Homo sapiens: one gene and its partners. The protein of the gene in region 3 purifies or fractionates together with the protein of the main gene of each other region. This does not show direct contact. Each region holds a gene or a part of one and is shown on either strand. Other genes may lie near its edges. The genes, in order: FMN2, TARS3, ALDH3B1, IREB2, WDR73, NUP155 and USP32.

Region 1 (4,149 bases), on a different chromosome or scaffold from region 3:
TATCTAACACACTTCAAAAATACCTTTTCACCTCCTTTCTGGTTTATTTAGGCGCATTAATTTTTATTTTACTCTTTTTTTGTATTGTTCCAAAGTAGTAGTAGATAATCTGAATTTGAGAGCTCAAGTATATATTTTACTTTAAAAACAAACCCTATGATACAAACTACATTCTCTGGAATGTTTAATATAACCACGATTTTTTCTATATTTGTAAAAAGAGCAAAACCTCTTTATAATCAAGTTTGACATGAGTCAGTAATGTAGCTATTAGAGATATCCCTCATTAGACAGGATTTGCTTGTAAAATGATTTAAGCAACTTGACTTCCTTTCTCTCTCCCAACTTGTAATTCAATGAAACGGTTGGCAGCACCTGAATCAATTAACAAAACTAGGCATGCTGAGAGAAAATTCTAAGTGATCAAAGTAACAGCTCTGTCCATGGAGGTCTATAAATAGTACTAAGGAATAAATATAGTTACATTTGTTTTACAGAGAAAGAACCAATTCAGGAAGACTTTGTATAGCTCTTCTGAGTACAAGTGAAACTATTTTAAAAACGTATTTCTTGATTACATATTTAAATTTTTATTTTAGATTACCTCTTGATTATTTAAATTAATGAAATTTAACCTAACAGAGGATTGAATAAGATATATAAACTGATACCAAAAAAGTCCCACAAATAATCTCTTATTTATATATGATCACTAGAATCTATTTCCAGTTCATTTCTATAATTTAAATATGATATTGATGCTATAGATTTCAATGTTATTTGCAAAAGTTGTTTCACTCCAACAAGCAGTTGCTGAGTATTGAAGAATTACCATAGGTTAAGAAAAGGGCTTTTCTTTCTTTTTTTTTTTGAGAAGGGCTCTCACTGTATTGCCCAGGTTGGCCTTGAAAAGTCCTCCCAAGTAGCTGGGATTACGGGCTCATGCTATTGCACTCGGCTTCAGCATTTTTTTTTTAACAAATGTAATTTATCAGCTCTCTATAGTAGATACTTCTATGAAAATGTGTATCATACACATGAGCATTTGAACAATTATAAAAATAAAAAAATCATATGCTGCTGGTGTACCAAGGAAGGACTATGAATTATTCGATTTTGGAAGAGCAGTGTCCACATTCCATAGATGCTCAATGAAAGAATATTGCATGAATATCTGTATTAATTTGACAACACACACACACGTACACAGAGACACAGTCTCCGACTCCCGATGCTTCATCTTACAATTTTTTGACTTTACAATGGTACAAAAGTGATACGCATTCAGTAGAAACTGTACTGCGAGTACCCATACAACCATTCTGTTTTTCACTTGCAGCACAGTATTCAATAAATTACATGAGATATTCAGCACTTTATTATAAAATAGGCTTTGTGTTAGATGATTTGCCCAACTGTAGGCTGAGGTAAGTGTTCTGAGCATGTTTGAGGCAGGCTAGGCTAAGCTTTGATGTTTACTAGGTTAGATGTATTGAATGACTTTTCACTTATGGTATTTTCAACTTAGGATGGGTTTATCAGGCCATAACTCCATTTTATGTTGAGAAGCATCTGTATATAAAACAATAAACAAATTGTTGGCTGGCAGAAAAGATTTTTAAAAGTCTCTCTCTCCCCCATGAAGGAAATTATTTCATTATCTAGGAAGGACAGTCCTACATATTTTTATTTCTACAAGCCAATTATTAAACTTAATATTTCAAAAACATGTCCAGAATTTCCTTTATCCTACTTTTTTGTGTGATGATTTTTTTATCAGAGAAATGTAACTCTTTTATTTTTTAAGTTTACCGTCTCAGACTTGAGTCTGTGACTCTAACCATCATTCCTAACCTCATATTTCTACTGGCACTCTCACAATTGCTTAGACATTAATTTCAAACAAACACAACTGCAGAAGTAGTACCAAAAAATGATTAGGTCTGCAAGAGAGCTTAGACATCCCCCTACACACCAGTATCAAGGAGAAAATCATATGCAGCAGAGTAGAATCACCTTTTATATTTTGTTTACAAGCCATTTTACTCATCATTGTGTTATTTTCAAAATATGGACCTATTGGCCTTCATTGCTTAACATGACAAAGAAAAAAAGATATACTGTCTAATTCATAGAAAATAATTAGCCTTCAGATTCCAAAAGGATAAATATTAGCAGACATGGGAAAGATATGGTAAAAGAAATTATTGTTTTATATTAAAACAATATAAAAAGTTATTTTGTATTGTTTTTATATTAAAAAGTTGTAATTATACATTAGACATAAGAATGAAAATTATTCACTTTAGGAAACATTAATCACAAAATCACAAATATCTGATGGACATTACTTTTTTCTAGCTCAGAACATAAAGAAGCATTTGACCTAGGAACATAAATATTTTTTACAACTGCTTTACATTCAAACCCATTACTAAACAAAACCTTGACTCCTCAATGTGCTTACGTCCACTCATGCAAAATACTTACACTGCTCTTGACATCTTTCAGTTTTGGAAGAATGTCTAATCCAAAGCCATCTGCCTGTCCTCGAGTCTTATTTCCTCCATTCATGTAGTTGCCAAAGGCAAGAACCAAACCTAGAACCTGCATAACCCCTGGGCCATTTTTTAATGTCTGTAAAACAGAATAACAACAAAAAACAACTTTTATCTTATACCAGGTTTTGTTTGAATCATCGAGTTGATGCCAGCTATTTATATTATATTAGGAGTTTTGGGTCACAACCGAACTTTATCATTCCTAATTATTAGGTATATTTTAAGAGCAGTATCCTGAAAGTTAGTAAAAGTTGCACCACCCACAAACATTCAGGTATGCCTTTGTAAGCTGGGGGATGCTATGTTAGGCCATTTCTGTGATGTAACTGCAAGGAAAACAAGCCTGTGTGAGAACTATTAAGGCTATATGGGAACAAAGGCTATATGATAACTATTAGATAAGGCCAAATGAGAACTATTACAAAATAACATCACTAATATCACTGCCATTGTCTTAATGGTGCCTACGTCTGGAACAATACCAATGTTTGGCATCAGCAGAGGAAACCAAAAAGCAGATTCAGAGATTAATTTCTAAATTTAGGTTTACCCCCAAAGAGCTCACACTCATTTCTTTCAAAACACTGTGTTTAACTTGACTTTGCATGTCACTTCTTCTGAAAATGTGAGCCTTTAAAAACATCTTTTCACTTTTCAAAATGATTTACCGCAACTAGAACAAATGGTATTACTGATATTTGACAAATTGTTTTAAATGTTAACATTGGTCGTTTCTGCCAAGCATTTATTTTTTGTTTTCGGAAGAATATTTGTCTTCTGTTGAGTCATATGGCTGTTCCTAAATTATTTGGCTGGAATAATTATTAACAGTTTGTGGAGAGGTCCTTCCAGATAACGAAAGAAAGTAAAAAAAAAAGCCTTCAAATTACATTCCTTTGGAAGTCTGATGTCTGAGAGGACCGTGAAAACTGAAGATTTTGTTTTGGCAAAAGGAGAGGGCAGAGAAATCTCTGGAGGCCAACATGTATTGGCCACATTCTAGCAATGTGGTCCTGTAGCCCTGGGCGCCCGCCGGAACATTTACTTTGATCTTGAAGGTCAATCATAAAATGTTCCCTTCTGTGGGACTGCGATCCTTCAAATTTGGTGAGTACTTAGAGTAAATAAAAGAATGCTTTTCTGAAATAAGAACATGGCTGAGCACAATTAAATGAGACTCAAGTTCAGCTCTCTTTGGACCAGAACTCACCTCACACAATTTCTGTAGTAATTCCAGTTTGCGACGAATTGAGCAAATGCTTTCTGAAAATGTGGACTGGAACAGGATGCAAAAGACTCGCTCTGAAAAGTTGGGGATTAGTGACAGTTCATAAAGGAACCTAAGGAAATAAAGCCAAGTTAAGAAGAAAAATATAATTCACATAAACAGATGTTTATCCTCATCTCATTCACAACAAGTATGCACTGAAGACACCGCATTTGCATTTTCCAAACAAAACGGGCCCACCCATAGCCTGGACGCCCTCTACGTGGTTATAAGACATGCTTACTGTTCAGGTTTGTCCAGAGACTTGGCATTTTCCTTGTCTTTGGAAGATCGGCCATGCTTTTCTATTTTTTCGAGTTC
Region 2 (4,149 bases), on a different chromosome or scaffold from region 3:
AACTTAGGTTTCATGAAGATAATGGACAGCTTGAAGGGCGACTGCAACGTTCAGGCGACAACGTATATCAGAAATCATATATCACATGCATATGTGAAAAATGTGGTATTTATTTTATAGAAAATTATATTAAGTATTTAAAGGATATCTGAGTCTTGTAATTTCTTCCAATTCTCCTATACATATTAAATTATAAAGTAGACCCATTTTTAATGGCCTACTAACAATTCATTTCAAACACACATTGATTTAATAACCAAAGCATTCTAACTTAAGGAAATGATTATTGTAAGAAATGATAAGGCTGGGCACAGTGGCTCACACCTGTAATCCTAGCACTATGGGAGGCTGAGGGAGGCATACTGCTCGAGCCCAGGAGTTTGAGAACAGCCTGGGCAACATAGCAAAACCCTGTCTCTACAAAAAATATGAAAAATTATCTGAGTGTGGTGGTGTGCACCTGTAGTCCCAGGTAGCTGGGAGGCTGAGGTGGGAGGATCACCTGAGCCAGGGGAGGTTGAGGCTGCAGTGAGCCGTGATTGCGCCACTGCACTCCAGTCTGGGTGACAGAGTAAGACTCCATCTCAAAAAAAAAAAAAAAAAAAAAAAAAAGAAATTATAAATATGGGCTACTTTAAAAACTGACATGTATTTGTATACATTCATGCCACAAATATTTATTAAACATCAATAATCAAATTTTAAATCTTAGAAACCCCCAAAAAACTCAACATTCGTGACTTCAATATGTGGCCTCTTATATAATGTAGTTTACAACATAACTACCCAAAGTTTGGCTGTCTGGTTTTTAAATACTCACAGCTTGAGCTTCCTCATTATCAAATGTAAGCAGCTCTAGAGAAGAGTCCCCTTCCAATGGGCGGTCCAGGTCCCACAGTTCACCATTGACTTTGGCTATTACCGTGCTTTCAGCCAGTTCCTGACTAAGAAGACAAAAGCCACTTGGGAGTTAACTTTATCACTGTTACAATGATTCCTTAAAATATTAAAAGAATTTCTAGGGTTTTTTTTTTTTGAAGTGTATAAAAAGTACAAACATAAACTAATAGGACAGATATTTCTTGTTTTGCAATATTTATTTTATGTAGAAAAGTAATATACATTCACTGTTTTTTTTTTTTTTTGAGACGGAGTCTCGCTCTGTCGCCCAGGCTGGAGTGCAGTGGCGGGATCTCGGCTCACTGCAAGCTCCGCCTCCCGGGTTCACGCCATTCTCCTGCCTCAGCCTCCCAAGTAGCTGGGACTACAGGCGCCCGCCACTACGCGCGGCTAATTTTTTGTATTTTTAGTAGAGACGGGGTTTCACCGTTTTAGCCGGGATGGTCTCGATCTCCTGACCTCGTGATCCGCCCGCCTCGGCCTCCCAAAGTGCTGGGATTACAGGCGTGAGCCACCGCGCCCAGCCACATTCACTGTTTAAAAAAAACTTGGAAAACTGAGAAAGCCCACAAGATAAAATAAAAATCACACATAAATATCATAAATCACTACTTATAACATTTTGGTACATTTCTATCCAGTGGTTTTTCTACCTCCATCCACCCCACGCACACATATGTGCTGTCTTTAAAAGCAGCTGCCGACATAATTGTATAGCTTGCATTTTCTGTCATGCCTCAGATTGCCTTCCAAAGCAGTCTGGAAGTATTGTATTTATTAATGAAGCCTCCACTGCTGCACACTGAGGTCGCCTAAGTCTTGCTATCATAGAGTATATCACACAGACATCTGTACACAGGCATCTTGCGACTTCTGTGACTGTTTTCTGGGAATACATCCACAGAATTGGAATTACTAGATCAAAGGGGATGTACCGTTGACAGATTTCTGATGTCAATTGAACGCATCACTTCCACGTACCCCGATTTTTAAAATCTTTATCAATGTGACATTGAAAATTGTTGTTTTGATTTAATTATTAGTTTTGGTTCATGCTTACAAGCTATTTTTACTTTTATGAACTATCCGCTTCCTTTGCCTATTTTCTTTTTTTTTTTGAGACAGTCTCACTTTGTTGCCAGGCTGGAGTGCAGTGGTGCAATCTTGGCTCACCGCAACCCCTGCCTTCTGGGTTCAAGCGATTCTCCTGCCTCGGCCTCCCGAGTAGCTGGGAATACAGGCGCAGGCCACCACACTCAGCTAACTTTTGTATTTTTAGTAGAGATGGGGTTTCACCATATTGGCCAGGATGGTCTTCTAGTGAGGTGTTGATCTCTTTCTTTCTGTTTTTTTGGGTATCTTTTAAATAACATTTATTGTTTGAAAATTGTTGACAAAATTACAAGTTAAGAAAGGAAACCTGGAAAGCACAGAAACACACACACAAAATCACCTATAATTCTACCACCAAGAAATTACCATTGATGTTTTGTTTATATCTTTCCATATTAATATATAGGAATAAAAAATATTTAATAGTATCATAATTATGTGATTTTATAACCTACTTCTTAAACTTCACAATAAATCACAGCATCTTCCCTAACAGGAGACAGATTTCCAAAACGTGATATTTAATAGTCACAGAGGAACCAATATTTGCTAGGCATTTTAATTATTTTTTATGGGTACTTTGGGGGACGAGTAGCAACAAAAAACAATGCTGCAATGAACATTCTTGAACATATATCTTACTCAATTATTTTCTCAGGAAAAATTCTGGAAGTACAACTGCTAGGTCAAGGGAAATGCATTTTCAGTGATTTCTGTCAGAATATATTGCAAAATTTTCCTACTAGCAGAGTTACAAGAGTATCTTGTCTCTGAGTTCTCATAATGTTAGGTACTATTAAATTGTATCAACTCTACAATGTAATTTTTTTTTTTTTTTTTTTGAGACAGGGTCTCACTCTGTCACCCAGGCTGGAGTGCAAAGGTGCAATGTCGGCTCACTGCAACCTCTACCTTCCGGGTTCAAGTGATTCTCCTGACTCAACCTCCCAAGTAGCTGGGATTACAGGCACATGCCACCATGTCCGGCTACTTTTTGTATTTGTAGTAGAGACAGGGTTTCACCCTGTTGGCCAGGCTGGTCTCAAACTCCTGACCCCAAGTGATCTGCCCACCTTCACCTCCCAAAGTGCTGGCATTACAGATGTGAGCCACCGTGCCCAGCCTACAATGTAATCTTTTAATTTACATTTCTGTGATTAACTTGAGCAGCAGTACTGCATTGAGGTTGGGGGCACACAGGTAAGAGGCCAACCTGAGTTTAAATACTGGACAATTTACTCAGCTTCTTTAGGCCTCAGTTTTCTTATCTACAAAATAGGGATTATAGGACCTTCCTCATTCATCTATACTCAGGATTACATAATGTGTACATATGATAACAAGAACTTAATAAATGTTAGATGTTATTAATCAAGTAGAACTTTCTTTTCATTTTTACTGGCTGTCATAGATGGCTAGTGTTTCGCAAACCGATTCTGCCCTTCTTCTCCAGAAGGAGTTTTCCAGCCTTCCTTGCAGCTACATGTGGCCATGTGGCCAGGTTTGGAGCCAATGGATAGAAGGAGAAGTCATGTGTAACACTTCTGTGTCTCATCATTAAAACAGTGGAGGGCACTTCTCCAACCTCTCTCCACCTTCTGTAGATGGGAACCCATGTGCTATTCTTTCTGGACCATGTAGACAACGGCAACATTGTACCAGACAAATCAGCAACAAGATGGGAGAAATCTGGGTCCCCAAAAGACCGTATGGAGACATGTCACCCAGTCAACCTGGCCACCCACGTCTAGACTGCTATATGAAAAACAGACTTTGACCATATTCAAGCGACTTGAGTTTTTTGTGATGTCTTTGTTGTAGCAGCTTAGTATATATCTTAAGTAATACAGAAATAAGGACCTGGAAGTAAAAATCCAAAACAAGTGGCACTGGCTTAACAGACTGGCAGTGAGTAACAAGGAAACAGATTCTAACATATGGAGAGCCAATAACCTTTGTGATAGTATATCAAAATATTTGATAAAACTTGCAGGCAAACCATGTGTCACAGTGCTTGTAGCACACAAGAAAGCAGGTATAAAAGGGGAGAGTAGGGCTGGGCGTGGTGGCTTACATCTGTAATCCCAACATTTTGGGAGGCTGCTGTGGGCAGACCACCTGAGGTTGGAAGTTCGA
Region 3 (4,149 bases):
ACGAGGGTCGGGACAGGCTGGGGTCGGGGAGGACAGCTGCTCAGGGGTCCTGTCCCTAACTCTGGGAGTCCACAGGGAGACTGAATTCTCCTCTCTCTCTCTCTCTGGACCAGGCTGGGAGCAGTCCTGGACCCCCAGGACCCCTTAGGAAGGGATGGAGTCCCATGTCCAGGGCCAGCCCACTGTGCCAACCACAGCGTCAGGAACCATAGCCTCTGCCCCCACTGTCCCCAGACCCTCATACGTGACCCTGCTGCCCCCCAGGCTCTTAGACACCACCCTACTGGTGCCCACAGCCCTCTCTGCAGGCAGATGAGGGACTGGGCCTCAGTGTCCTGCCCAGGGTCACCCTGCTGGCCAGGATGGGGACAGGCTGGAATGTGCACACAAGCCCTTGGAGAAATCCACGCCAGAGGTCACTTTTTTTTTCTTTTTTTTTGAGACAGAGTCTTGCTCTGTCACCCAGGCAGTGGCACAATCTTGGCACAATCTTGGCTCACTGCAACCTCTGCGCCTCCTGGGTTCAAGTGATGCTCATGCCTCAGCTTCCCAAGTAGCTGGGGTGACAGGCATGTACCACCACGCCCGGCTAATTTTTTGTATTTTTAGTAAAGACAGGGTCTCACTCTGTTGCTCAGGCTGGTCTCGAACTCTTGGCCTCAACCAGTCCTCCTGCCTTGGTCTCCTAAAGTGCAGGGATCACAGGCATGAGCCACCACACCCGGCTTCGAGTTTTTGAGCTAGGGAGGGGCAGAGGGAGCGAGAGGAAGACAGTGGTGCTGGCAGGCGAGTCTGCGCCTTACAGGTCGAGGCAGTCGTGGGGAAGGGCCTGGCAGGATTGACCTGGCCGCCTCCCAGCAAAGGCAAAGGAGCCCTGGAAGGAACCACAGAGCCCAGGAAGCACTGTGCCAGGATGGGGCAGGGGTGAGAGTAGAGAAGGCACAGTGGCTCCTGCCGGCTTTAATCCTTGACCACAAGGGGGAGAAATGCCAGGGCCATCCCCACAGACGCAGCAGCGTGGTCCCCGAGTCAGGTCTGGAGAGGAGGCCTTGAGGCCCAGACAGGGCTAGGGCAGAGAAGGCTGTGTGCATGCGGAGACTGCTGGGCCCCTGGAGGCCAGCACAGAGGAGAGGTGAGGCCAAGCCAGGCAGGACATGGGGACGCCTGCATCAGCCTGGGACAGTCCACCTCAAGGGTCAGAAAAAAAGGGCTGGGCAGGTGGCAGAACTTCCAGGTTTAGGTTTAGAGAAGAGAGACCTGAATGCCGTAGACAGAGCTGGACTCCATCCTTGGGTGATAAGGGATCCCCGAAGTTTCCAAAGGAGATGGGTGGGGAGGGGTTCCATGCAGCATTTTGCAAAGAGTCCCCTGCAGGGTCAGCCAGGGTCACAAGCAGAGGCGGGAGGAGCCAAGGGGTTTGGCTCAGCAGGGGGACCCTGGGGGCCGATAGCAGCCGTGCACCATTCCCTCCTGAGACTCTGTGCTTAGGGGCTGGTCCTGATGAAGGATGAGCAGGGCCCTGGGCTGCAGGGTGGCAGTGAGGAACAAGGAAAGGCCAGGCGAGGGCTGCTGCCCGCTGACTCCACCACCTCTCCAGGGAGGAGCGGGGCCGTGGGCTGGGCCATCCCGCCTGGTCCAGGTCACTGAACGGCCACTCTGGTTTCCTTCCATGCCCAGGGAGCCCTCGTGTGGGCAAGATTGTTATGACTGCTGCCGCCAAGCACCTGACACCTGTCACCCTGGAGCTGGGGGGCAAGAACCCTTGCTACGTGGACGACAACTGCGACCCCCAGACCGTGGCCAACCGCGTGGCCTGGTTCCGCTACTTCAACGCCGGCCAGACCTGCGTGGCCCCCGACTACGTCCTATGCAGCCCTGAGATGCAGGAGAGGCTGCTGCCTGCCCTGCAGAGCACCATCACCCGTTTCTATGGCGACGACCCCCAGAGCTCCCCAAACCTGGGCCGCATCATCAACCAGAAACAGTTCCAGCGGCTGCGGGCATTGCTGGGCTGCGGCCGTGTGGCCATTGGGGGCCAGAGCGATGAGAGCGATCGCTACATCGGTGAGTCCTGCTGCCCCTACCACAGCCCACCTGGGCCAAGACCCCTCCTCACTGGAGGGCCCAAGGCTGGGCCACAACTCTGGACCCGCGCCTGAAACCTGGCCCCACTGCCAGAGCCCGGCCTTGAGCCACAGCTCCAGTGCCATGATTCCGTCTCTGTGCTTCTAAGTCTGTGGCCCTATGAGGCCAAACTCTGGTCCCTCACCTTGGATTCGCTGAGCTCAGATCCCAGGGCTCCAGGGCTCAGCGTGCTAAGATGAACTCCCATCCCACCACTGGCTATCCTGAAAGGCTGTAACCTCAGATTCTCCGAGCCCACAATCCCCAGGTTCTAAACTCCGAGAGTCCCGTCCTGAGCCCCCAGTCTCCTGGGCCGTACGGCTCAGCAGCTCATGGGACACTGCGGCGCCAACATTCTGGGACGCTGTTGCCTCATGAACTCCAAGGGTTCTAAGATCCCATCACCCCTGACTGTGAGACCAAGGTCGGGGGATTCTCTGTGTCCCACAGGCCCTGAGCAGGCTGGGGAAGCTCTAGAGTCCCTTCTGGGGGGCTGTGGGGAGACTTTCTTCCCTAAACACTCCAAAGCCTGAAGCCTTGGGAAGTCAGACCTTGGGATCCTGGCCTAGAGCCCTGGCCTGTGGCCCTGTCCCCACCTCTACCCCCACCCTGGGGGCGGTCCTGACTGTGGCCCCAGGGCTGAGCTGTCTCTGGTGCCTGCAGCCCCCACGGTGCTGGTGGATGTGCAGGAGATGGAGCCTGTGATGCAGGAGGAGATCTTCGGGCCCATCCTGCCCATCGTGAACGTGCAGAGCTTGGACGAGGCCATCGAGTTCATCAACCGGCGGGAGAAGCCCCTGGCCCTGTACGCCTTCTCCAACAGCAGCCAGGTGGGGGTGCGGCCGGGCTGGGCAGGGTCAGGAGCCCGCAGTGGGCAGCACAAGTGGTGGCAGCAGGGGGGGCACCAAAATCCAGTGGCTTCAGGACTTTGGGATGGTGGACCTCTTGGCTCTGTCTCTGCCCACTCTCCTGGAAGCAGCTGAGCCTCACCCACCCCAACCCTGTCCCCAGTCTGGGCCCCACTCTCCTAGGCCTTCAGTGGGCAGCTTCCTGGGGTATGGGCCTTCTCTAGGGTCCAGTGTTTCCTCTAGGTCAGCCCCTGCCTTTGTCCTTCTTACACATCGGGGCCTGGTGGCCACATGACCCCTCAAGCCTGGCTCTGAAGGCACAGGCAACGTGTCGGGGATGACCCAAAGGTGCAGGTCCAAGAATGAGCCCTGATCCCCTACCCCTGCTTAAGCTGCAGAGGCAGCCTGGGAGGCCCAAGGCCAGAGTCCTCAGATTAAAAAACACCAAGAGGTACCAGCAGTCCCTACCCACCCCGCCCCCTTCCCCGGCCCTCAGCCAGTTCCTCGATTCCCTCCACTTGAACTTTTTTTTTTTTTTTTTTGAGACAGAGTCTCACTCTGTCACCCAGGCTGGAGTGCAGTAGCACAGTCTTGGCTCACTGCAACCTCTGCCTCCCGGGTTCAAGCGATTCTCCTGCCTCAACCTCCTGTGTAGCTGGGATTACAGGCGTGTGCCACTATGCCCGGCTAATTCTTTGTATTTTTAGTAGAGATGGGGTTTTGCCACATTGGTCAGGCTAGTCTTGAACTGCTGACCTCAGGTGATCCACCTGCCTCGGCCTCCCAAAGTGCTGGGATTACAGGGATGAGCCACCGTGCCCGGCCACTTGAACTTTTTTTAAATAAACTTTGTATTGGGAAATACTTTTAGATTTACAGAAAAGTTGCCAAAATGGTACAGAGAGTTCCCATGTACCCCACACCTAATTTCCCCCATTTAATGGTGCTTAGATGGGTCAAAACTAAAAAAGTGATGGCAGGGCTGGGCGCGGTGGCTCACACCTGTAATCTCAGCACTTTGGGAGGCCAAGGTGGGAGGATTGCTTGAGCTCATGAGTTTGAGACCAGCGCTGGCAATATAGCAAAACCCCGTCTCTATGAAACATTTTTTTAAGATTAGTTGCGCATAGTGGCGCACACCTGTAATGCCAGCTGCTCGGGAGGCTGAGGTGGAAGG
Region 4 (4,149 bases), on a different chromosome or scaffold from region 3:
CCAGCCTGGGCAACACAGCAAGACTCTGTCTCAAAAAAAAAAAAAAAAAAATAAAGACTGGAACCAACAGTAAATAGTGAAAGTATAAAAATAAAAGCGTGTGATGGGGTGGAGGAAATAACATACTTTCAATCCAACAATTCTATATAATGATAAGTTTGCACAAAAATGTAAGTATTAGCACATACAAAGTTTATTTATAAATAGAGAAAAGTTACTATCAGCCTCAATATTCAAAGGTCTGTTAACTAAACCACAATGCATTCATACAGGCAATATTGTGCAGCTATTAGAAGCCACAGAGAAGTACAGGTATCCCTTTCTACCTGAACTCAAGCTCCCTGACTCAGAAACCAAGTAGATTCAGATAGCAAGGGATACCTGTATTCAATGACATGGAAAGATGTTCATGATATATTAAGTGAAAAAAAGGGTTACAAAACAACATATACTTTATTTTTATTAAAAGTAGCATATTTACATATATTTTTGTATACACATAAAAATGAGACTTTCTGTACCATCTGCAATGTTCTTGTCTTTTTGTGATTCTTCTAAATGATAAAAACTCTCCTAAAAAATTAAATACAGGATTTTCTTCCAAAGGCTGCAAGGTAGGATTTGGACACTAAGTCCCGGCTCTACTGGAGGACTAAGCAGTACTGTGGTTAAAAAGGCAAGCAGACAGGAAGGACAAAAGAAAGGGTGAATAAGATGACCTGAGATAAAGGGTGCCTGGGGGCTTTACACCACCAGAGGCCCTGTTGCCCAGTAACAGGTACTCTCTCAAAACTACCTTTCACTCCAGCCAGGCCAGTCTCTCCACCATCTTCCCCTTCATTCAACATAGTCATTCATGTTTCCATTATGCTGTTCATTCTAATTCTCTGATGTTAACTGTCCTCCATCATACATGGAGACACCACTGATTTCTCCACTCCTTAAAAATAGCAATAGTTTCAAATTCAGAGATCTACTTAAGAGAGTCACCCAAATCAGCTACTTGAGAGGGTGAGGTGGGAGGATCTCCTGAGCTCAGGAGTTCAAGGCTCCAGTGAGCTATCATCATGTCAGAGCACTCCAGCCAGGTTGACAGTAAAACTCCATCTTTATAATTTTTTTTTTTAAAGAGTTACTCAAAATCTACATTTTGAGACTACCTAGATTTTGACATGTTTCTAGTCAGCACATTGGGAGTGCCAGACAGCCAGCTCCAGAATATTAAAGAGATTCCCCACAACTGGCTGCGTGCAGTGGTTCACGCCTATAATCCCAGCACTTTGGGAGGCCAAGGCAGGAGGACTGCTTGAGGTCAGGAGTTTGAGACCAGCCTTGTTAATATGGCGAAACTCCATCTCTACTAAAAATAAAAAATCAGCCGGATGTGGTGGCACACACCTGTAGTCCCAGCTACTTGGGAGGCTGAGGCACGAGAATCGTTTGAACCCTGGAGATGGAGGTGGCAATGAACCAAGATCATGCCACTGCACTCCAGCCTAGGTAACAGAGCGAGCCTCTGTCTCAAAAAAACAAAACAAAATAAAACAAAAAACAAAAAAAACCCCACAAAAAATAAAAAAACAAAGGAGATTCCCCACAAGCAAAATCATACAAGATCAAAATGTAATCAATGTCTAAGATGTGCCCACTTCCATAGAGATACCCTGAGTATAAATTTGGGAAGCAAAAGGATAAAATGGCAGTAAAAAAGCAGAAATCAAATAATCTGTGTTGAACTCTATCTAAAGTCAGAATAAGAGAAGGCATCAGGTTGGTAACGCAGATAGATTAGGCTGGTTCACTCACCACCCACTCCCAACCACTTCTCCCTTTCCTTTCTCTATTGTAAAAGATGTAAAGGTAAAATACAGTACCCCATCTTATCTATGGTTTGGCTTTCTGTGGTTTCAGTTACCTGCAGAACAGCACAATAAGATACTTTGAAAGAGAAAGACCATATTCACATAACTTTTATTACAGTACATTGTTATAACTGTTCTATTTTATTATTAGTTATTATTAATCTCTACTGTGCCTCATTTATAAATTAAGTTTTATCATAGCTATGTATGTATAGAAAAAAATATATACCAAACAGTACATACACGGTTTGGTAGTACCCATAGTCTCCGGTGTCTACTGAGGGTCTTGGAACATATCCCCCATGAGTAAGAGAAGACCTTGATTATTCCATCTTTCAGCCTTCTTGAAGCTAAGAGTGGCCACTGATACTTTGGCCAAAGAGGCAAAAGCCCCTGGAGAGGGCTTTTATCATGGTTATAAAAACTGGTAATTCTGGAATTATGTTAAGTACACATGTACTCTGTACAGTTATGTACAAATTCCCATGACAGCTTATTTCCCAGGGAAAATTTAACTTGGACATAATGCCTGGAGGTGCAACCAAAAGAATAAAAACAGAACGGGAAGAAAGGACGAGCCTAGATCCTTGCGGAGATTGGTGCTGCACAGCCCCAGTCTGCCAATCTCCACACTTCGTTATGTTAGAAAAATAAACTCGTATTTCTTAAAGTCATTGGACAGCAAGTTTTCAGTTCTTTGCAGCTGCAGGCATCCCTGACATAGTCAGCATGGAGCTTAGAACAGTGTTTCTCAACTATCTTTACTCTGTAACATTTATGAGGGATAGAATCCATTCCCTTCATTAATCGTTACTCATTACAACAGTCATTCTCAACCTAGCAGGCATCAAAATGTGGAATGGAGGTGGAGAAGACTGGCTCTGTACCTTGGTGACTACCAAAGCAATGTCTTCTTGTAAGCATATGTCTAGGAGGCAATTCAATCTGATCCTTTCAAAAATGCAATAAGGATTTTTTGTTCTAAGGTTAAACAACCAAATACTTCCTACCTAACTTGTTCCTTTCTTTCAAAGTCAATTCTTCAAATTTTATTCCTTATTAGGAAATTACTTAAGTAATTATTACTTAATAACCTCTCATAATAAGCACTCTATTAAAAAAGCAGGAGGGGCTGGGCGCAGTGGCTCACTCCTGTAATCCCAGCACTTTGAGAGGCTGAGGTGGGTGGATCACTTGAGGTCAGGAGTTTGAGATCACCCTGACCAACATGGTAAAACCACCATCTCTACAACTAGCTGGGTGTGGTGATGCACGCCTATAGTACCAGCTACTTGGGAGGTTAAGGCACGAGAATCGCTTGAACTCAGGAGGCAGAGGCAGCAGTGAGCTGAGATCACACCATTGCACTCCAGCCTGGGTGACAGAGCAAGATCCTGTCTCAAAAAAATAAGTAAAATAAAATAAAATAAAATAAAATAAAAACCAGGGTACTGACCCCACATAAAAACCAACTTTCTGTTTTGAAAGTATTTATAGTCACAGGTATTCTATTATTACATTTATCATGGTTATAAAAACTGGTAATTCTGGAATTATGTTAAGTACACATGTACTCTGTACAGTTATGTACAAATTCCCATGACAACTTATTTCCCAGGGAAAATTTAACTTTCAGATTATCAATCATTCCCTTTCAATGCATTTTACAGTTGTTTTTGACAGTTTCCTACTGATTCCTTAAATTTGAGAAATTTAGGTCATCTTCCTTCAAGTAAGCACATTTCTACAGATTATACACAGAAAGTATTTATACTCAATTTTCAAAACATCTTATGTGCTCCTTTAATTTATTAAACTATGAAATTTGGGTTAAAAGACTTCCAAGCCAGTATCACTAGATTATTTTGGAGAAGTAAATGGGAAATAAAATGACTATTCTTGTAAACGATCAATCTAGCTGTTTCTTTTCAAAATTAATGCAAACTCACCATCAGTGAAGGGATAAAATTAATGTGAAAGACATACATTAAGAAAATGACCAACTTCCTTTAACAAACGTATCAACACAAATCACTGCAGCTAAACATGCAAGGTAAAGGATATTGCTCTCATTTTGGCAAACTGTTTATTTTTAAATGACAGCCTAATTCTAAAATGGGGATTCTTTAAGATACTCCAAAATAGCTGTATTTCACAATACACAAAAAATATTGCACATAGCAGTCAAGAATATTTAAATTCCTCAAAATCTACAGAAAAATCACAAGAACAATCGTCTTAATTAAATAATGCAAGAAAAAACAAGATTAAAGCTCCTTCCAAAACT
Region 5 (3,399 bases), on a different chromosome or scaffold from region 3:
TCACTGTTTCATTTCTTCTGTTGTGTCACTTGCCCTGACTCAGGCATTAGAGAGGCATTTTGTTCTGAGGCCATGTGTTTTGAGAAGGGGTGTTGTTTCCTCAGGAGCTAGTGACACCTGGTGATTCGGCTGTGTATATCTCCTAGGAGGCATGGAGGGATCCAGAACCTGGACTGAAGAACCACCTAGAAATAACTCAGCAGAATTCTGAAAATGAGGTCACGCTGGGTAAGAATGCCTTTTTTTTTTTTTCATAGTCAAAGTTAGCTATGGAGTTTCTGTAGTATTCACTACTCCAGACCTTTTTCAAGTTGAATTTTTTTTCTTTTTCCCTATGTCTGTTCTTACGTATTTTTTTTAAACTTTTATTTCAGTAGTGTTTGGGGAACAAGTAGTGTTTGGTTGCATGGAAAAGTTCTTCAGTGGTGATTTCTGAGATTTTGGTGCACCCATCACCCAAGGGTAGTCTTTTTTATCCATCAAGTCTGTACCCAATGTGTAGTCTTTGTTTTTTTCTTTTTTTTTTTTTTGAGACTGAGTCTCATTCTATCACCCAGGCTGGAGTGGAGTGGTATGATCTTGACTCACTGCAACATCTGCCTCCCGGGTTCAAGTGATTCTCCTGCCTCAGCCTCCTGAGTCGCTGGGATTACAGAGATGTGCCACCACGCCCAGCTAATTTTTGTATTTTTTTTTTTTTTTTTTGGCAGAGATGGGGTTTCACCATGTTGGCCAGGCTGGTCTTGAACTCCTGACCTTAAGTAATCTGCCTGCCTCGGCCTCCCAAAGTGCTGGGATTACAGGCCTGAGCCACCACGGGGCCCCAGTGTGCAGTCTTTTATCCCCTCAGTCTGTACCCAGTGTGTAGTCTTTTATCCCTCACCCCCCTGCTCCCACCCTTTCCCCCTGGGTTGAATATTTCAAATCTATTTCTTCCTTAAATCTTACTCAAAGGAAATCCAATACCATAGTCAGTTTCACCAAGGATGAATTTCTTGACCCAGAAAGGAAAGCTCATTTTAGGGAGATGGTCAGTTTAGGTATGTGTCTGAATTTTATTTAAGATAGATGAACGTGGATATATAGTTATGCATTTGGGCCTGAATTTTTTTTTCTAGTTGTTCTTTTCACTGAGCTTTCCCAAGAATCCCCCCAGAATTAAAAAAAAAAAATTACTATCTCCTCTCCCTGGCATATAAAATGGTTGGGATTAGATTTACCAAACCATTACATCTCCCTTTTGTCTGCCTGCAAACAGATTTTCCAATCCATAGGCCCAAAGTGAACTCCCACGTGGAGTAGGATGAAAACCCACAGCATCTAGATCTTCAAATTCTGGAGAAAAAGAGAGTGTGAAAGACTGCTCAGTGGCTGGGGTGAGAGTCAAGTCTGGCCAGGTGCTAATCTGGAGAAAAGCCAAGACCTGGAGCGAGCTGGAGTGGCAGGCCCTGGAGGATGAGAAGGTGGCAGGAGTGCACTGGGGATACAAAGAAACCAAGATTTTTCTGGGAATTCTCAGAGGCCTGGATCCACGAAAAACTCCGCACCTGCCATCGAAACCACCAGGTGTACCGGATTATGGCTGAGCAGCTGTGAGAACATGGCTTCCTGTGGACCCTGGAGCAATGTTGCTATCGGTTCAAAAACCTCCTGACCGACTACTGCAAAGCCAGGAGCACCTACACACCAGGCACCAGTGTCTTCTATGATGAGATGGATGCCCTGTTGAGTCTTGGGGCACTTTCTAACACCTTTGATGCCTTAGAGGTGGTAGGAGGCCTTCTTTGGGATTGAGAGGATTCCAAAGGGAACCAGGGCATAGCACTAGAAGATGTGGCGGGATGGTAATGAAATAGTGGAGGAGTCTCAAGAGGAATCCTGGAGGCTTGGTCCCCAGGCCTTGAGGTGGAATCCCAGTGGCAACTCTCCCCCACAATGGACCTCAGAGCAGTGGGAGCGACGCAGTCCTGTGGGAAGCATTCAGGCTCAGAATCAGGAGATGTGATTATTGTCCTGGCTCTGTTATGACTAATTTGGGTCTGGAATGGCCTCATCGGGGGAAAAATTGGTGACAACTTTAAGAAATACTGTTTATATCCCGTCCTCAAATATTGCTTGACTCAACCCTCTACTGAACCAGTAGTCCAGGGTGGCTCACAAAGACCACTTTGAGGCTCTTGCTCTGCTCTTTAGCCAAGGAGTCTCCCTTCCTGCCTTCAGTAACAACATTACAGGAAGAGAGGAGAGAAAGGTAGGAGTTAAAGATCCAGTCATTTGTTTCCATCTAAAGTGCCCTATAAGCCGGGCATGGTGGCGCAAGCCTGTAGTCCCAGCTACTCGGGAGGCTGGGGCAGGAGAATCACTTGAGCCCAGGAGTTGGAGGCCGCAGTGAGCTGTGATCATGCCACTGCATTCCAGCCTGGGCGACAGAGTGAGACCCAGACTCAGCTGAAAAATAATAATATTATTAAAAGAATTTAAAATAAAGTGTTCCATAGATGTGAACCCTGCGTAGATTATACACACCAGTCTGCCATTTAAAAGGTTTGTTGTTCTTGGGCAACCTCTTTAAATACCCTTAGCCTCCATTTTCTCATCTGGACAGTGGACATTGTGATGGTTTCTACCTCCCTGGGCTGTTATGAGGATCCTGACACAGTATTAGCACTTGGCAAACGTTAGTTTTCATTATCATCATCATTATAATTATTATGAAAATAGATAAGGGCATTATCCTGTACCCTCAAAGGAGTAAAAGGGGGAAAATGAGTCATTAAACTTTCTCTTCTGGGAACTAGACCTTCTTGAGAGGCACTATCATTCTCATTTCACCTGTCACTTCCAGACATGGGAGCAGAAAGTGAATTTCAGAACTCCATGTCCCCTCCTGCTTTTCTCTGAGCAGGACTTCCAGTTCCCCAGCCAGATGGGGTCACAATGCTGCAGAAAAGTGAAGAGCTTTGGAATGAAGATCTCCCGGACTTCAAGGAGATTCAGAAAACGTCCAGTGCAGGTGGGAAATGAATGGGAGCTAGCATTCCACCAACAAAGTCAGCCCTGGGATTCTAAACTCGGACAAGCCAGCACTGGTTAAGGGCTGAGGGGAACCAGGCACTCAGTGCACCCAGTTTACTATTCTGTGGTGTGGAAAGCACAGGACTTGAGAAGCAGGTGGCACCCAGGAAAGCCTGTTCCCCTAAGTAAGTTTGAACTTTAGTTACTTGAAAAAAGGTATAACTGAATTATGAGTGTTTATGATTTTATCTTTATTTTATTTTTTTTGAGATGGAGTCTCACCCTGTCACCCAGGCTGGAATGCAGTGGCACAATCTCGGTTCACTGCAGCCTCTACCTCTCAGGTTCAAGCAATTCTCCTGCCTCACCCTCCTGAGTAGTGGG
Region 6 (4,149 bases), on a different chromosome or scaffold from region 3:
GGAGCAGTAGCCTACTTTGCCCCTTAGGAAAAGATACTGCATTACTCAGCTTTATACTAACATCTAATAGCAGGCATGGGATGAGAAACTGAATTTTTTACATCTATATATGTGCTTAAATCATTGAGTTATGCTCCTTAAGAATAATTAACACAACTGCAATAAAAAAAGATTTACCTGTAGCAGCTTATCTGCAAGGTCGACTTGTATTAGCCAATTATAAAGGGCAATACTAAAGAGCTCATCCTTGGATCGCTGTGACAATTTAAGCATTTGTTCAAACTAAAATAAAGAAAATAGTAAAAATTAGCAGTTAAAGGCTCTGTTTCTGGGCATCACAACCCTTTAGCCCTATAAACTCCAGTAAGAAATCAAGAATCCTTACATGATAACTTCTAAGAACTACCACCTTTCCCCAAGATGACTGTGCTACCATTACCATGGAGAACTTCTAAACAGTGTATTCTCAGAATGAAAATATACTATGTCCCTTACATGATGTCCTGCTTCTTCATTACTCAGCATATTTGGATCAGATGACAACACTGGAGGACCAGGTTTTTTGGGTACACTGGGAGACTGAGGAGCGGCCTTACTTTGATTTACCAGTTCTTGAAGTGTGTCTGTAATGCATTTGTAACTGTTTAATCTGAAAGAAAATGGAAAAGGAACAATTACATTATTTAACTAGAAAGCAAATGATGGTAAGTGTGGTGACTCACGCCTGTAATGCCAGCCATAGGGAAGTCAAGGTAGGAGGACGGCTTGAGGCTGGGAGTTCAAGACTAGCCAGGGCAACAGAGCGGGACCACGTCTCTACAAAAAATACAAAAAAATTGGCTGGGCACAGTGCCTCACACCTGTAATCCCAGCACTCTGGGAGACGAAGGCAGGGGGACTGCCAGAGGTCACGAATTTGAGACCAGCCTGGCCAACCTGGTGAAACCCCGTATCTGACAAAAATACAAAAATTAGCCGGGCTTGGTGGTGCATGCCTGTAGTGCCAGCTATTCAGGTGAGTGAGGCACAAGAATTGCTTGAACCTGGGAGGCAGAGGTTGAGGTGAGCTGAGATCATGCCACTGCACTCCATCCTGGGTGACAGCAAGACCCTGTCTCAAAAAACAAACGAACAAAAAACAAAACAAAACGAAACAAAAAATTAACCAGGCGTGGCGGTGTGCACCTGTAATCCCAGCTACTTGGGAGGCAGAGGCAGGAGGATCGCTTGAGCCTAGGAATTCAAGGCTGCAAGTGAGCTATTATCATGCCACTGCACTCCAGCTCAGGCAACAGAATGAGGCCCTGTCTCAAAAACAAAAAACAAAACCCCCCAAAAACAAAACAAAACAAATAACAAAAAAGAAAGCCATTGATTTACCTTACCTAAGTATATACAAGGATTTCAAGACTATTTGGCAGAATAGATGTACATATTTGGCATTTAAAATAATACAAACCATATACTTTTTCAATAAGTTTGAGAAGTGTTTGGTTAAACATTAAAAGGGTAAAGTCATTAAATATAGTAATAAAAAAATATGTTTTCGCCAGATGTGGTGGCTGACACCTCTAATCTCAGCACTTTGGGAGGCTGAGAAGAAAGGATTGCTTGAGCCCAGGAGTTAAAGACCAGCCTGGGCAATATAGTGAGGCCCTGTCTCTACAGAAATTAAAGAGAAAAAAAAAATTAGCCGAGTGTGGTGACATGTGCCTGTAGTCCCAGCTACTCAGGAGGCTGAGGTAGGAGGATCACTGGATCACTTGAGCCCAAAAGGTCAAGAGTACAGTGAGCTATGATGGTGCCACTGACTCCAGCCCAGGAGACAGAGTGAAGCTTTGTCTCAAAAACAAAAACAAAAACAAAACAAAACACCCTCCATATATATATGTTATAGAAAGGTTATATATTTCTTCTTTGTTCCGAGACGGAGCCCTGCTCTGACGCCCAGGCTGGAGTTCTGTGGTGCAATCTCAGCTCACTGCAGCCTCTGCCTCCCGGGTTAAAGCAATTCTCCTGCCTCAGCCTCCCAAGTTGCTGGGATTACGGGTGTGCACCACCACGCCTGGCTAATTTTTGTATTTTAGTAGAGACAGGGTTTCACTATGATGGCCAGGCTGGTCTCGAACTCCTGACCTCATGATCTGCCCACCTCAGCCTCCCAAAGTGCTGGGATTACAGGCGTGAGCCACTGTGCCTGGCCTATATTTCTTTTAAGGACACACATTTCCTTTTTAACAGTCTCAACAAATTTGGGAATACTTAAAAATTATCCTTTAAAATGAAATCCTACTGGACATGGTGGCTCATGCCTGTAATCCCAGCACTTTGGGTGGTCGACCTTTACACAAAGAGGCCAGACACGGTGGCTGATGGCTATAATCCTAGCACTTTGCAAGACTGAGGTGGGTGGATCACTTGAGGTTAGGAATTCAAGACCAGCCTGGCCAAAATGGTGAAACCCTGTCTCTACTAAAAATACAAAAATTAGCCAGGCGTGGTGGTGTGCACCTGTAATCCCAGCTACATGGGAGGCTGAGGCACGAGAATAGCTTGAACCTGGGAGGCAGAGATTGCAGTGAGCCAAGATCACACGACTGCACTCCAGCCCAGGTGACAGAGCAAGACTCTGTCTCAAAAAAAAAAAAAAAACATAAAACAAAAAACAAAAAACATTATGCAAAGAAAAGTCTGTATCCATAAAGATGACAATCTGCTAACGTAATGGAATGCACCTTTCTTGGAAGGCCTGAAGTCCAACTATGTCTTCTTCTGGTTCTCCATGTTTATAGAAATGAAGCCCAAGACCTTGAGGATCTTTTTTCTCTGCAGCCGTAAGAGAAAGTTCCACCACACCCTCATAAAATCTCACTGATGGGAAAGAAAAGAATGAAGACCTATGACTTACTACTAAGTTGGATACATTTTTCCTTAGCTGGCACATGAAAATAATGATCAAGGTTATGTCTCTACTGTACAATAGTCACCCTGCTAACATAAAATATTTCTGATAGGTCTTCAGAAGGAAAAGGTCTTAATATGCCTAAAAGGCAACTGTTAAATATATTTCTTCATTGGGGGCCAGGTGTGGTGGCTCACGCCTGTAATCCCAGCACTTTGGGAGGCTGAGAGGGGGCAGATCACAAGGTCAGGGGTTCGAGACCAGCCTGACCAACATGGTGAAACCCCACCTCTACTAAAAATACAAAAATTAGCTGGGCCTGGTGGCATGCGCCTGTAATCCCAGCTACTCAAAAGGCTGAGGCAGGAGAATCACTTGAACTAGCGAGGCAGAGGTTGTAGTGAGCTGAGATTGCACCATTGCACTCCAGCCTGGGTGACAGAACAAGACTCTGTCTCACAAAAAAAAAAAGAAAAAGGAAAAAAAAAAATATATATATATATATATTTCTTCATTGGAAAAAAAAGATCCTATTTCAAATAACAAAAAGGAAAGTTTTAGTTCCCTACTGGGGGGAAAAAAATACCTTGGGATTCAAAATAATACCTGTGCAAATAGTTATGGCCTTTACATTATGTTAGATTTGATTTAAAGTAATTTTTTAAAAAGTAAGCAGATTATACCTTAAAACTCAATAAAAAATTTTAAATATCTGAAAAATAAATGTAATCCAGAAAGCAATGTAAAACATACAGTAATTGAACTGGACAAGAACTGAAACTCTAATGCTAAAAAGTTATACATTTCGGCTGGGCGCAGTGGCTCATGTCTGTAATCCTAGCACTTTGAGAGGCTGAGATGGGTGGATCACCTGAGGTCAGGAGATCGAGACCACCCTGGCTAACATGGTAAAACCCCACCTCTACTAAAAATACAAAAATTAGCTGGGCAATGGCCGGGCGCGGTGGCTCACACCTGTAATCCCAGCGCTTTGGGAGGCTGAGGTGGGTGGATCATGAGGTCAGGAGATTGAGACCATCCTGGCTAACATGGTGAAACCCATCTCTACTAAAAATACAAAAAAATTAGCCGGGCATGGTGGCAGGCGCCTGTAGTCCCAGCTACTTGGGAGGCTGAGGCAGAATGGCGTGAACCTGGGAGGCAGAGCTTGCAGTGAGCTGAGATCGCACCACTGCACTTCAGCCTGGGTGACAGAGCAAGACTCTGTCTCAAAATAAAAAAAATAA
Region 7 (4,149 bases), on a different chromosome or scaffold from region 3:
GGCAAGGCACAGTGGCTCACACCTGTAATCCCAGCACTTTAAGAGGCTGAAGCAGGAGGTTCACTTGGGCACAGGAGTTCGAGCCCAGCCTGGGAAATATGGCAAAGCACCATCTCTACAAAAAATACAAAAATTAGCCAGGTGCAGTGGTGCATGCCTGTAGTCCCAGCTACTCAGGAGGCTGAGGTGGGAGGATTGATTGACCCCAGGAGGTAGAGGCTGCAGTGAGCTGTGATCTGTGTTGCACCACTGCACTCCAGCCTGGGTGACAGAGTGAGACCCTGTCTCAAAAAAATAAAAAATAAAATAAATTAAAAAAAAAAGAGTTTTGATCCTCTAGACCCCCTGAAAGATGGGGAACCTCAGAACTTTTGCTATAAGGGGACAAGACAGCAGCTACCATTCCTGTTTACCGTATATCAGGCACTGTGTGAAGTGCTTTACTCTCCATGTGTCACTCTCAACTCTGTAAACCTGGCATTATCTCCATTTTACAGATGAGAAAATAGATTCAGGGAGGCTGAACCTCTTGCTAAAACTTACATAGCTCAAATACAGATAGGTCTGATTCCAGATAGGTTCTTTCCACCCAACCAACCTGATGTTCCAGAACAGAAGACAGAGAAACATATGTAGCCTACAGGAGTCCCAAGAAAGCACCTGCATAAGGCCCCCAGGCCTCACCTTTCGGGCTGCTGATGATGTTAGCGCTGAGTGAGGATGGGCTTTTGCTCAGGAGCACGTCCTCTTCCCCAGCCGAACTCTGCGCATCCACTTTCTTCACCTCCCTTGCCAGAATCCTGGGCTCAGAGAGCTCATCCCCCTGGGGTGTGAGTGGTTTATGCTGGCAGAGAGCCGGGTCTCTTGGTACCAAAAAAGCACTTGGATCAAAACTTTCCCGAGGAAATTTGACAATTTTCTGTGATTTTATCCACCGACCATTTACAAATTGAAATCGCTTAAGGTGAATAATCTGGAGAAGTAAAGGTAGAAAACATCTGCATTAAAGGGTTCTGAAGATACAAAATTTACATGGAAAAAACAAGTCAAATACATGTGAATGTTTGGGAATATATAACAGAACATTTACTCTTCATTATTTTTTAAAGACTTCAAAAATATGGTTTCATAAAGGCCTCTACATAGGCCCCAGTGCACTGGTGTGCTTGTGCACACACACTCAACTCAGCAGTGTGGCACAGCCACGTGACTGCGCAGTGGGTACTGCCTCCAGGCTCAGTTGCTCTTCTAGAGTCCACAAAGGCTTAGCCTAAGCTTCCACCCTCCACAGAGCCAGAAGTTCACCCTCTCCTGAAGTTCAAATTCACCACATTGTACCCCTTGTGGCAGTTCTCACATCACACTGAATTGCAGTTACTGGTCTACATGACTGCTCTGCTTGTTTTATGTGATGATTATATGAAAATATATACTTGTCAAAATTCATCAAACTGGATATTAAAAATCTATGCTTTTAATTGTATGCTAATTATACCTCAATTTTTTTTAAAAGGTCTACCCGTCAGCCGGGCGCAGTGGCTCACGCCTATAAACCCCGCGCTTTGGGAGGCCAAGGCGGGTGGCTCATGAGGTCAGGAGATCGAGACCATCCTGGCTAACACAGTGAAACCTCATCTCTACTAAAAATAAATAAATAAATAAATAAATAAAAAACACACAAAAAATTAGCCAGGCGTGGTGGTGGGCGCCTGTAGTCCTAGCTACTCAGGAGGCTGAGGCAGGAGAATGGCATGAACCCAGGAGGTGAGGCTTGCAGTGAACTGAGATGGTGCCACTGCACTCCAGCCTGGGCGACAGAGTGAGACTCCGTCTCAAAAAAAAAAAAAAAAAGTCTCCCCCTCCTCCCCACCCACCTTGTCTCCAAGCCTGCCCCTTCCCTCTAGTTCCTATCTGTGGAGCTAGCTAACAACCAATGTTATTAATTTCTTGTGCATCATTCCCTGGGAAGCTGTTCTGGTCTAAGAAAAACCTACATTCAGCTTCACAGAGTAGTATGACAGAGACATGAATAGAATAAGAAAACATGGCTGGGCACGGTGGCTCACGCCTGTAATTCCAGCACTTTGGGAGGCCAAGGTGGGCAGATCACCTGAGGTCAGGAATTCAAGACTAGCCTGGCCAACATGGTGAAACCCCATATCTACTAAAAGTACAAAAATTAGCCGGGTGGTAGTGGTGCATGCCTGTAATCTCAGCTACTCAGGAGACTGAGGCAAGAGAATCACTTGAGCCCGAGAGGTGGAGGTTGCGGTGAGCTGAGATTACACCACTGCACTACAGCCTGGGTGACACAGTGAGACCCTGTCTCAAAAAAAAAAAAAAAAAAAACATATAAATATCTGAATTAAAATATGCCAGTACCTTACAGTTACACTGATCTTAATGAATAGGAAGATTTGTCACTTCAAATTCTCCTGACAAACAACAGGACAGTCTCCTAATCCATGAAGGGAGAAGGCAGAAGTAAATTAAATCTAAAAGAACACACAGGCCCTAGTGCACTGGTGTGCTTGTGTACACACACTCAACTCAGTAGTGTGCCATAGCCACATGATTATGTGCAGTGGGTGTTGGGGGCTCCAGGCTCAGTTGCTCTTCTAGAGTCCACAAAGGGTTAGCCTAAGCTTCCTCTCTCCACAGAGCCAGAAGTTTAACCTCTCTTGAAGTTCAAATTCACCACGTTGTACCCCTTGTGGCAGTTCTCACATTGCACTGAATTGCAGTTACTGGTCTACATGATTGATCTTCTAGGTTATAAGCTCTTTAGGAAAAAGAACTACAAAATATTTGTAGAAAGATTCATCTCTGTATTCAACATAAAAAGCTTGTACAGAAAGTGTTTTAAACACTGCTGCAGGAAAGGTCTTATTCTCAAAAATAACAAAACCTCCTGTTTGTTCATGTCTTCTTTCTTTTATGCCAGATTCCTGCTCTCTCAGAGGCAGGACTGTAACATACCAGGATGGGTGGAAGCCTCCAGAGATCCAGCTTCTTTGTTGCTAAGCAGTGGGTCTTACACTTGGAACAGTAGTACATCTCATTTTCCCCTAGCTCTTCCTCACTGGTGAAAGCACGGAGACAGCTGTCCAGGTTGATGGGCTCGGCTTGCGCTCGCCGACTCTGCTCCACACTCTCATGCTCATCTACAACCTGCAGGTAGAGGGAACAGGAGGAAAGGGGTGCGTGGGAAGGCATTTAAAGTGGTGATCTAGGTATGCATCAACCTCTTGGTCACTCACCCTTATTTTACTCTATATAAGGAAAAAGAAAATACAACTGGCTGGGTATGGTGGCTCATGCCTGTAATCCCAGCACTTTAGGAGGCCGAGGTGGGGTAATTGCTTGAGTCCAGGAGTTCGAAACCAGCCTGGTCAAAAGAGTGAGACCCTGTCTCTGTAAAAGAAAAATCTAAAAATTAGCTGGGCATTGTGGTACATGTCTGTAGTCCCAGCTACTCAGGAGGATTGCTTGAGCCTGGGAGGTAGAGGTTGCAGTGAACTGTGATTACACCACTGCGCTCCAGCCTGGATGACAGAGAGAGACCCTGTCTCAAAAAAAAGGGAAAAGAAAACACAACCCAAACTAGAGTCTGAGCAAATACAGCACCTATATATTTATTCACAAATGTTACATCGGTAACATTCTGGATAAAATTTCTATTTATATGACCATAGCTTTTCTTGAAAAATTTTTGAACGCTTCAAAATGACAAAAACAAAAAGAATTGCATTTATTTAACAACTTTGGAATCCTATAAGGGATTACATGTGAGCTGGCCCTCAAGCCAGGGGTGCTGATAGTAAGCCATTTACTTTTAATCAGAAAGCCAGAGCATTATTAGTATGCTGCAGACTTTACAGAGGCTAGGAGAAATAACATGAAACACAGAAACCAGAGCTGGATGAAATAAGGGCACAGAAAAGCTCACCATGAGAAGACAACACAGCAGAGCATGAAACCCCACAGGGTACAACTCATTTGCATCTGATTCCATGTAACACAGAGTTATCAGAATACCAAGTCTATAATTATCTGTCTCCTCCCTCATGGGGCCTTTTTATCTGAGATGGCAACAAAAGGAAGAGCAAGCTCAAAAGAGTGTGCTGCTTTTGCTGAGAAGGCCCCTAA

Evidence for each region.
Region 1: the proteins of ALDH3B1 (region 3) and FMN2 purify together in Homo sapiens (affinity purification with mass spectrometry; 2 studies listed by BioGRID and IntAct, with this or other methods). This does not show direct contact.
Region 2: the proteins of ALDH3B1 (region 3) and TARS3 purify together in Homo sapiens (affinity purification with mass spectrometry; 2 studies listed by BioGRID and IntAct, with this or other methods). This does not show direct contact.
Region 4: the proteins of ALDH3B1 (region 3) and IREB2 purify together in Homo sapiens (affinity purification with mass spectrometry; 2 studies listed by BioGRID and IntAct, with this or other methods). This does not show direct contact.
Region 5: the proteins of ALDH3B1 (region 3) and WDR73 purify together in Homo sapiens (affinity purification with mass spectrometry; 3 studies listed by BioGRID and IntAct, with this or other methods). This does not show direct contact.
Region 6: the proteins of ALDH3B1 (region 3) and NUP155 purify together in Homo sapiens (co-immunoprecipitation; 3 studies listed by BioGRID and IntAct, with this or other methods). This does not show direct contact.
Region 7: the proteins of ALDH3B1 (region 3) and USP32 purify together in Homo sapiens (affinity purification with mass spectrometry; 2 studies listed by BioGRID and IntAct, with this or other methods). This does not show direct contact.

Annotation. Positions count from the first base shown.
Region 1 is NC_000001.11:240,329,091-240,333,239, reverse strand, and holds part of FMN2 (formin-2), read right to left. Parts: coding exon 4,073-4,149; intron 3,902-4,072; coding exon 3,772-3,901; intron 2,638-3,771; coding exon 2,491-2,637; intron 1-2,490. UniProt on the Homo sapiens protein: Actin-binding protein that is involved in actin cytoskeleton assembly and reorganization. Acts as an actin nucleation factor and promotes assembly of actin filaments together with SPIRE1 and SPIRE2.
Region 2 is NC_000015.10:101,714,020-101,718,168, forward strand, and holds part of TARS3 (threonine--tRNA ligase 2, cytoplasmic), read right to left. Parts: intron 945-4,149; coding exon 821-944; intron 1-820. UniProt on the Homo sapiens protein: Catalyzes the attachment of threonine to tRNA(Thr) in a two-step reaction: threonine is first activated by ATP to form Thr-AMP and then transferred to the acceptor end of tRNA(Thr).
Region 3 is NC_000011.10:68,019,808-68,023,956, forward strand, and holds part of ALDH3B1 (aldehyde dehydrogenase family 3 member B1), read left to right. Parts: intron 1-1,677; coding exon 1,678-2,064; intron 2,065-2,787; coding exon 2,788-2,954; intron 2,955-4,149. UniProt on the Homo sapiens protein: Oxidizes medium and long chain saturated and unsaturated fatty aldehydes generated in the plasma membrane into non-toxic fatty acids. May have a protective role against the cytotoxicity induced by lipid peroxidation.
Region 4 is NC_000015.10:78,441,039-78,445,187, reverse strand, and holds part of IREB2 (iron-responsive element-binding protein 2), read right to left. Parts: intron 1-4,149. UniProt on the Homo sapiens protein: RNA-binding protein that binds to iron-responsive elements (IRES), which are stem-loop structures found in the 5'-UTR of ferritin, and delta aminolevulinic acid synthase mRNAs, and in the 3'-UTR of transferrin receptor mRNA.
Region 5 is NC_000015.10:84,638,250-84,641,648, forward strand, and holds the end of WDR73 (integrator complex assembly factor WDR73), read right to left. Parts: 3' UTR 1,036-3,399; downstream 1-1,035. UniProt on the Homo sapiens protein: Component of a multiprotein complex required for the assembly of the RNA endonuclease module of the integrator complex. Associates with INTS9 and INTS11 in the cytoplasm, stabilizing the INTS9-INTS11 heterodimer and blocking the active site of INTS11.
Region 6 is NC_000005.10:37,304,562-37,308,710, forward strand, and holds part of NUP155 (nuclear pore complex protein Nup155), read right to left. Parts: intron 2,872-4,149; coding exon 2,736-2,871; intron 650-2,735; coding exon 496-649; intron 283-495; coding exon 178-282; intron 1-177.
Region 7 is NC_000017.11:60,182,481-60,186,629, forward strand, and holds part of USP32 (ubiquitin carboxyl-terminal hydrolase 32), read right to left. Parts: intron 3,172-4,149; coding exon 2,980-3,171; intron 974-2,979; coding exon 685-973; intron 1-684. UniProt on the Homo sapiens protein: Deubiquitinase that can remove conjugated ubiquitin from target proteins, such as RAB7A and LAMTOR1.